Linked DNA regions of Homo sapiens. The protein of the gene in region 1 binds, or shares a complex with, the protein of each later gene. Each region holds a gene or a part of one and is shown on either strand. Other genes may lie near its edges. A codon is read from its position in the direction of its gene.

Region 1 (3,750 bases):
CTGATTGCAACTGAGAGGTCATTTCTGCCCATGGTCGCATGAGAGATAGGTACAAGACATATCTCGTATCTCTTTCAGACACCACCTCTTGTATCCATGCAAGCCGAGGCTCCTATTTCTCATACCACCTCTTCCATGCAGCCCCCAGGTATTAGGGCCTCCTGTGTTTTAATTTTGTCCCATCCTCTCTGGAAGGTAGGAGGGAGATGCAGCCGTGAAGGATCATGGGCACTTCGTAAAAGCACTGAGCTTCCAGGCTGATGCAGGTCTAAGGCTGCCTTCTTTGCTGAACTGGAAAGGGTGATGCCCTGTGAAAGCTTATGGTCTGTCTGTGTACACAAAGAGCAGGTATCAGGCAGCAATAGGAGTGGGACCATGGCTGTAAATGCTCTGTGAGCACTGAGAAGGGAGGCGAGTTCTGAGGGGATGGGGTGGCCTTTAGAACGGGCATGGTGGCTCATGCCTATAATCCCAGCACTTTGGGAGGCTGAAGCAGGAGGATTGCTTGAGCCCGGGAGTTCACAACCAGCCTGGGCAACATAGCAAGACCCCATCTCTTAAAAATTATTTTTTTGTTTGTTAATTAGCTGGGTGTGATAGCATGCATCTATCTGTAGCCCTAGCTACTCAGGTGGCTAAGGCTGGAGGGTCCCTTGAGTCCAGGAGTTGAAGGCAGCAGTAAGCTATGATAACACCACTGTACTCCAGCCTGGGTGACAAAATGAGACCCCCATCTTTTAAAAAAAAAATTATTAGCCAGGCATGGTGGCGCTCACCTGTAGTCCCAGGTGCTTGGGAGGCTGAAGCAGGAGGATCGCTTGAACCCAGGAGGTCAAGGCTGCAATGAGCTGAGATTACGCCATTGCATTCCAGCCTGGGTGACAAAGTGAGACTCTGTCTCAAAATAAATAAATAAAATTTAAAAATTAAAAGAATTTACCTTCCTCATCCTCAAGAAAGTGTAGAAGTCAGATTTGGATGAAATCTATTGTCAGGGATTGGGGTTCTGGAAAGCTTCGCAGGGATGATGTTGCCCAGCCCAATTAGGGTGGTCTGGACAGATGTGCAAAGGCTGGAGACCTGCAAGAATGCAGCCTGTTGGGAAAGTATGTGTAGTTAGTCCTAAGGTCCAAGACTAGATCAAGAGGAAGTATAGACGCGAGAGTCGTGGGATCCCGGGCACATCGGCTGTGTTGAGTGTGGCGTGTGCCTCATGGGCTCCAGGGGAAGGAAGAAGAACACTTTGGCCAGAAATGCTCTCCTCCCCCATCCCACTCAAACCACTGAGTCTGGAGACGTGCTAAGTGTTGTTGGTTGTGGGCACCTTTAGTGATAACACCCTCCCCCTCTCCCCTCGCAGTGACCCAACAGGAGAAGACCCCACCGCCTAGACCCAGCCCGCTAGAGGCAGGCAGTGATGGCTGTGAGGAGCCGAAGCAGCAGGTGTCTTGGGAGCAGGAGTTCCTGGTGGGCAGCAGCCCAGGAGGCAGCGGGCGGGCACTGTGCATGGTGTGTGGCGCTGAGATCCGGGCACCCTCGGCCGACACAGCTCGCTCGCACATCTTGGAGCAGCACCCTCACACCTTGGACCTGAGCCCTTCTGAGAAGAGCAATATCCTGGAGGCCTGGAGTGAAGGGGTGGCCCTCTTGCAAGACGTGAGAGCTGAGCAGCCGTCCCCACCCAACTCAGGTAGTTGGTCCTGGGGCTGGCGAAGGGAGAAGTCGGACTTGTTGGGGCACTAGAAGCTCATTGTGCTCTTGCTCCCTGCAGACTCGGGCCAGGATGCCCACCCAGACCCAGACGCCAACCCAGACGCTGCCAGAATGCCAGCCGAAATCGTCGTTCTCCTTGACTCTGAGGATAACCCATCCCTCCCTAAAAGGAGCCGGCCCAGGGGACTCCGCCCCCTCGAGCTTCCTGGTTAGTCAACAGAGAAGCCAGTGAGCCCCGGTGGAGGTGGGGGTTTGGGGACAGGGTGAAATACAGGCCCTGTGTTCTGGGCAGGTATCTTCAGGAGCCCTGGGGTGGCAGGGTTCGGGGATGGCCTCTTTAAAAGGGTATGAGGTCTTTTCTTTTTGCAGCTGTCCCTGCCACAGAGCCAGGAAATAAGAAGCCCCGTGGTCAGAGATGGAAGGAACCCCCAGGGGAAGAGCCAGTCAGAAAGAAAAGAGGCAGACCTATGACCAAAAACCTGGACCCTGACCCAGGTGAAGGGGAGGCCCGGGGGAGGCGTGGGCTCTGGCCGCAGTGCTCTGAGGAAATCCGCATCAGTGAGGATGGAGCAGGGCCTGGGCGCAGGGCGCCTGCAGCTCCTGAGGCTTTTTCACTCACAGTTCCATCCCGTCCTCCCTTCCAGAGCCCCCATCGCCAGACTCGCCCACGGAGACTTTCGCAGCACCAGCCGAGGTCCGACACTTCACTGACGGCAGCTTCCCCGCCGGCTTCGTCTTGCAGCTCTTCTCCCACACCCAGCTCAGGGGCCCAGACAGCAAGGACTCACCCAAAGACAGGGAAGTGGCAGAAGGAGGCCTTCCCCGGGCGGAGAGCCCCTCTCCAGGTGAGCCCTCCTGAGAGGGAAGCACAGTAGGGACCTCGCAGGCAGCGCTCCTGGGCCAGGCCTCAGAGAGGCTGCTCTATGGCAGAGCCCACAGTAGGGGTGGGTGGGGTGGGTGGGGTGGGTGGTGCTCAGGTTTCCTGGTACACGGGGCCGGGGCAGGGGATCTGAATGATGAGGAAGGCTGGCCTGAAAGCTGAGCTTTTCTTTTTCTGTTTGTTTGTTTTTTGAGACGGAATCTTGCTCTGTTGCCCAGGCTGGCATGTAGTAGCACAAGCCCGGCTCACTACAACCTCTGCCTCCCAGGTTCAAGCAATTCTCCTGCCTCACCCTCCCTAGTAGCTGGGATTACAGGCGTGCGCCACCATACCCGGCTAATTTTTGTATTTTTAGTAGAGACAGGGTTTTCCCATGTTGGCCAGGTTGGTCTCAAACTCTTGACCTCAGGTGATCCAACTGCCTTGGCCTCGCAAAGTACACCACGCCTGGCCTATTTTTTTATTTTTTATTTTTTGAGACAAGAGTCTTGCTCTGTCGCCCAGGCTGGAGTGCAGTGGCGCGATCTCGGTTCAGTGCATCCTCTGCTTCCCAGGTTCAAGCGATTCTCCTGCCTCACCCTCCTGAGTAGCTGGGATTACAGGCGTGTGCCACCATGCCCAGCTAATTTTTGTATTTTTAGTAGAGACAGGGTTTCGCCATGTTGGCCAGGCTGGTCTCGAACTCCTGACCTCAGGTGATCCACCTGCCTCAGCCTCCCAAACTGCTAGGATTACAGGCGTGAGCCACCGCACCTGACCAGGTGGGCTTTTCTTAGTGTTTCCTTGTTTCCTGGAATTGGTCACTGGGTCCGGGTAGGCCAGTGTTTCCCAGAAGCCTGATACTGATTTCCACACATGCAGTTTGTTCTAGCTAGAGCCTGAGGGGTGCCCACCTTACCCTGGTGGAGCTGAGGCCCAGATGGGGCCACTCAGCAATTCAGTTAGGTGTCCAGAGAATAGATAAGATGAGCAGTGGACAGACACCTCCAGGGGACACCAGCTCAGTAAATTGCCTCATAACAGCAGTAAGTGCTTGTGTTGTTTGGGCTCCTACTGAGTTTAAGAAGCTTACATACAAGGCAAGTCGTGGTGGCTCACGCCTGTAATCCCAGCACTTTGGCAGGCTGAGGCGGGCAGATCACCTGAGGTCGGGAGTT
Region 2 (3,750 bases), on another chromosome or scaffold:
CTTACAGTCTTGCACTTAACCCTGTGAATCTCCTCCCAGTCTCCTTGGTTAGGTTCAGACCCCCTTGCTTAGTTTTTCACCCCCAGGAGAGAAGCTTCCCTTCTGCGGCGAGTACTCCTTATTGTCTCTTATGGCCTGTTCCCGTCTGACTTAGCTAAATATATGTTACCAGTCTAGAGTAAATTATTTCTATTTAGAAAATATATAATTTTAGTTTTAGCTGTTACAACCTACAATAAATTGTTTCTTTAAAACTTATTTGTGTTATATGTCAGATATTAATCACTTTTATTCATGGTGTACGAAATGAGAGCTTTATACCCATAAAACTGTGGGAAGGGAATTCCTTTCAGGTCTTTTTGTTCTTGGCGTATATCAGCATCTGTTATCTTGGTTTTGACCTTCAGCTTGCATCCAAGAAGCCAGGGTTTTAAGGTGAAATGAAGATTTTTTCCTGATATCAAGAGCCAGGTGTATTATTTATAAACATTCTGTGTGGATTTTTCAATTGCTAATAATAAGCCAGAAAAAAAGTAGTTTGATGTTTCAATAATTTTTAATATTACATTGTTATAAACTTCAGTTTTAAGATTATATGTTTTCTAGACAAGTAATGTTTCTATAGTGCATTGATATAAGCTAGTCTGGACTTCAGTTTAAGAGAAAATTGTCTAGTTTATTTTTATTAGTTAAGCTTGTACAGGCAGAATTATTTGGGCACGGGAATGGGTGAAATTGAATAGTTACACATTTCTTTTTAACTTGAAGTAGATATTATATAAAACTATATACCTGTGTGATTATTGATAACATGTATTTCACGGATCAGTCCTTCTTTAATTAACTTGGAAAATTTTGAGTTGATTGAATTAAAATAAACTCAGAAAGCTGATAACCTGATGCTTAATAGTAGGGCTTAAGTTGCTATTGACTAGTAGTTTTTTCTGCCTATACACAGTTGAGGTGCACAACAAGCTCCTATTACTAACATACCATGTTACACACTCACCACCACTGGTACAGGGGTAGAGGACAACCACTTTGAGTCACCTGAAGCAGGAATGTGGCAAACATGAGTTTGTACATATTTTGGGACCATCTGTAATGAGATCATGCTAGCCAGCGGTTATGTTAGATCTAGGCATGCATACTTTTGAGATAATACCTTATGTGTGTATATGTGTGAATACAGAAAACATCGGAGCAGTGTGGGTCCGAGCAAACCTGTTTCCCAGCCCCGGCGGAACATCGTAGGCTGCAGGATTCAGCATGGGTGGAAAGAGGGGAATGGCCCTGTTACCCAGTGGAAAGGAACCGTTCTGGACCAGGTGCCTGTAAATCCTTCTTTGTATCTTATAAAATACGATGGATTTGACTGTGTTTATGGACTAGAACTTAATAAAGATGAAAGAGTTTCTGCGCTTGAAGTCCTCCCTGATAGAGTTGGTAAGTTCTTTTTATAATTTGTGCATTATATACTTTAAAAATGATATTGAACTGGATGCTTTTTTTATTTTACATTATTAATACTTCACTTTTATTGGAACACAAGCACCCTTCTTGATAAACATTATATTAAATCACCGAAAACCACAAAAATGGATCCTAAGCAGTTCAAGGAACTGTGTGAGGGATATAGAGATGTGTATTTTCCCCCCAAGAAGTTTGCCACGTAATAATTTATAATACGGTTATTTCTAACATTTTTGCTCACTGTTCTCTGGACTCTGATGGGTAAGGTTATCAGTAGCTGAAATATCCTATATGTTAATCTCATCTCATCAGATACAAAAGATAAGAGAATGCTGTGCCTTTAGAATCTTTCTGTGAAAGTGTATCTTTGTGTACAACGTAAATGATAATTGTACTTTGAGCCAAAATTTAAACAACCAAAACGTGGTCTTTATTATACACAGAGCTTGATTGAACAATGTTTGTGGAAATGAATGGCTCTTTTTAAATGTCATACAGTGCCAGTTTTGCCCTGCAAGTGTTCCTTAAGGCATAAGGTCTAAGGTAAATAATAATTACTGATTTTATTAGTAGGGTGGGATACACCCAAACTAATATTACTTTTTTTTGAAGTATTTATTTTGAAATATTTTCTTATTACAGTGATGCTGCTCTTGTTTAAAATATTGGTTTATACTTTTAGAATTGTCTTTATAAGTCTATACCATTAAATAATAAAGTTTCAGCAGATCTAGACTTGGGAGGTAGGAATTTTGGGATCAAATTGTCACAGGAAGAAATTAGTTCAGTCTCCTCGCTTTGTTTTTCTTCAGACTGTGCCATTGTGTCCCTGGGATATAACGAGTTTCCTTAGGAAGTTAATTCTGCCTTAGTAGCAAGTTATTTTGTTTTACTCTTCTCTTTAGATATCAAATGCTAAATCCTTGCTCATCTGTATAAATATGGTTCAGTTTTCAAAGAAATCTTTCTTTAAATTTAAATCTTTATTATTACTCCTAAAAGTAATATTAAGTCTTTGTTATTTTCAACATTCTCATCTATTCTTAAGTGTGACTGATCACCTGCTCTTCCTCTTGATGCACATCCTACATTTCTTCTTGATCATGGCATTAATCCATTTCCCATATAAGAAACTTTAACATATTAAAAATCTTAACAGCAGAATTTTAGTCTCTGCCCCTTCTGAGACGACAGCTAGCTCACTTGAAGGTTCCTGCATATTGCTGCATGACCTGTGGTTGTTGGTCCTTTTGTCATCGAAGGATAGAAACTGTACAAGTATCTCTGGTGATGGGACTAAGGGTTCCATGTTGTTTGTAGTTTGGTATTATCTCTGTTTCCAACAATAGTAATTTTGTAAACATTCAAGCAATATAAAAAGAAACCCAAGAGCTTTTCTGTAAATCAGCAATATATATGCCTAATTCAGCTAATAGTTGTTATTAATTTTAGTATTCGTGGTATTAGGTTGGTGCAAAAGTAATTGCGGTTTTTGACATTGAAATTGAAAGTAATGGCCAAAACAGCAGTTACTTTGGCATCAACCTACTTTAGTCTAAAAAATTACTTGCTCTTCACTTACGTTTTACGTCGGAAGCAATTGCTTCAGGCAGTACATTAGAGTATAATTAAAATTATGTTTTTCTTAAGCTAAAGTTAGAGAAAAAAGTCAGTCAGCCAGAATGCATGTGATGTCACAGAGCAGTGGTTCCCAAAGCAAGGCCTGGGGACCCTTGGGTTCTCTGAAGCCCATTCAGGAGATTTGCAAGGTCAGAAATATTTTCATTTTGTTAAGCTGTAATTCGCGCTTTTCACTCTCTCTTTTTCTCAATTACACAGTGGAGTTTCCCACTATCTATTTGGAAGATTTGCATAACTTAGTGAACACAATATTTTCTTTATGAGCAGTGCATGGTACCACATCATGCATTGGTGAAAGAGCTATTCAAAGTGCAAGACTAACTACTTTTTTTTTAATTGTAAAAAAACATAGCATAAAATTTACTGTCCTAACCATTTTTAAGTGTACAGTTCAGTAGTGTGTTAAGTACATTCGCATTGTTGAAACAGATCTCCAGAACTACTTCATCTTACAAATCTGAAACTCTCTACCTATTAAACAAAACAACCTACCTTTCCTCCCATTCCCAGCCCCTGGCAACCACCATTCTACACTCTGTCTCTATGAATTTGACTATTCTAGATATCTCATAGAAGTGGAATCACACAGTATTTGTTTTGTGAGTAACTTATTTCACTTAGCATAATGTCCTCAAA

Evidence for each region.
Region 2: the proteins of SPINDOC (region 1) and SPIN1 are in contact, whole or in part, in a crystal structure (PDB 7CNA), measured with the Homo sapiens proteins. Residues at the interface, in NP_612480.1 of Homo sapiens: Phe256 (codon at 2,390), Ala258 (codon at 2,396), Pro259 (codon at 2,399), Ala260 (codon at 2,402), Val262 (codon at 2,408), His264 (codon at 2,414), Phe265 (codon at 2,417), Thr266 (codon at 2,420), Asp267 (codon at 2,423), Ser269 (codon at 2,429), Phe270 (codon at 2,432), Pro271 (codon at 2,435), Gly273 (codon at 2,441), Phe274 (codon at 2,444), Val275 (codon at 2,447), Leu276 (codon at 2,450), Gln277 (codon at 2,453), Leu278 (codon at 2,456), Phe279 (codon at 2,459), Ser280 (codon at 2,462); in NP_006708.2 of Homo sapiens: Met154, Thr169, Tyr170, Glu171, Pro174, Pro206, Val209, Val210, Leu213, Lys216, Gln217, Val218, Glu219, Tyr220, Thr229, Val232, Val242, Tyr243, Ile245, Phe247, Asp249, Asp250, Tyr254, Val255, Tyr256, Asp257, Leu258, Val259, Lys260, Thr261.

Annotation. Positions count from the first base shown.
Region 1 is NC_000011.10:63,816,445-63,820,194, forward strand, and holds part of SPINDOC (spindlin interactor and repressor of chromatin-binding protein), read left to right. Parts: intron 1-1,360; coding exon 1,361-1,690; intron 1,691-1,771; coding exon 1,772-1,921; intron 1,922-2,082; coding exon 2,083-2,208; intron 2,209-2,357; coding exon 2,358-2,558; intron 2,559-3,750. UniProt on the Homo sapiens protein: Chromatin protein that stabilizes SPIN1 and enhances its association with histone H3 trimethylated at both 'Lys-4' and 'Lys-9' (H3K4me3K9me3).
Region 2 is NC_000009.12:88,461,304-88,465,053, forward strand, and holds part of SPIN1 (spindlin-1), read left to right. Parts: intron 1-1,192; coding exon 1,193-1,446; intron 1,447-3,750. UniProt on the Homo sapiens protein: Chromatin reader that specifically recognizes and binds histone H3 both trimethylated at 'Lys-4' and 'Lys-9' (H3K4me3K9me3) and is involved in piRNA-mediated retrotransposon silencing during spermatogenesis.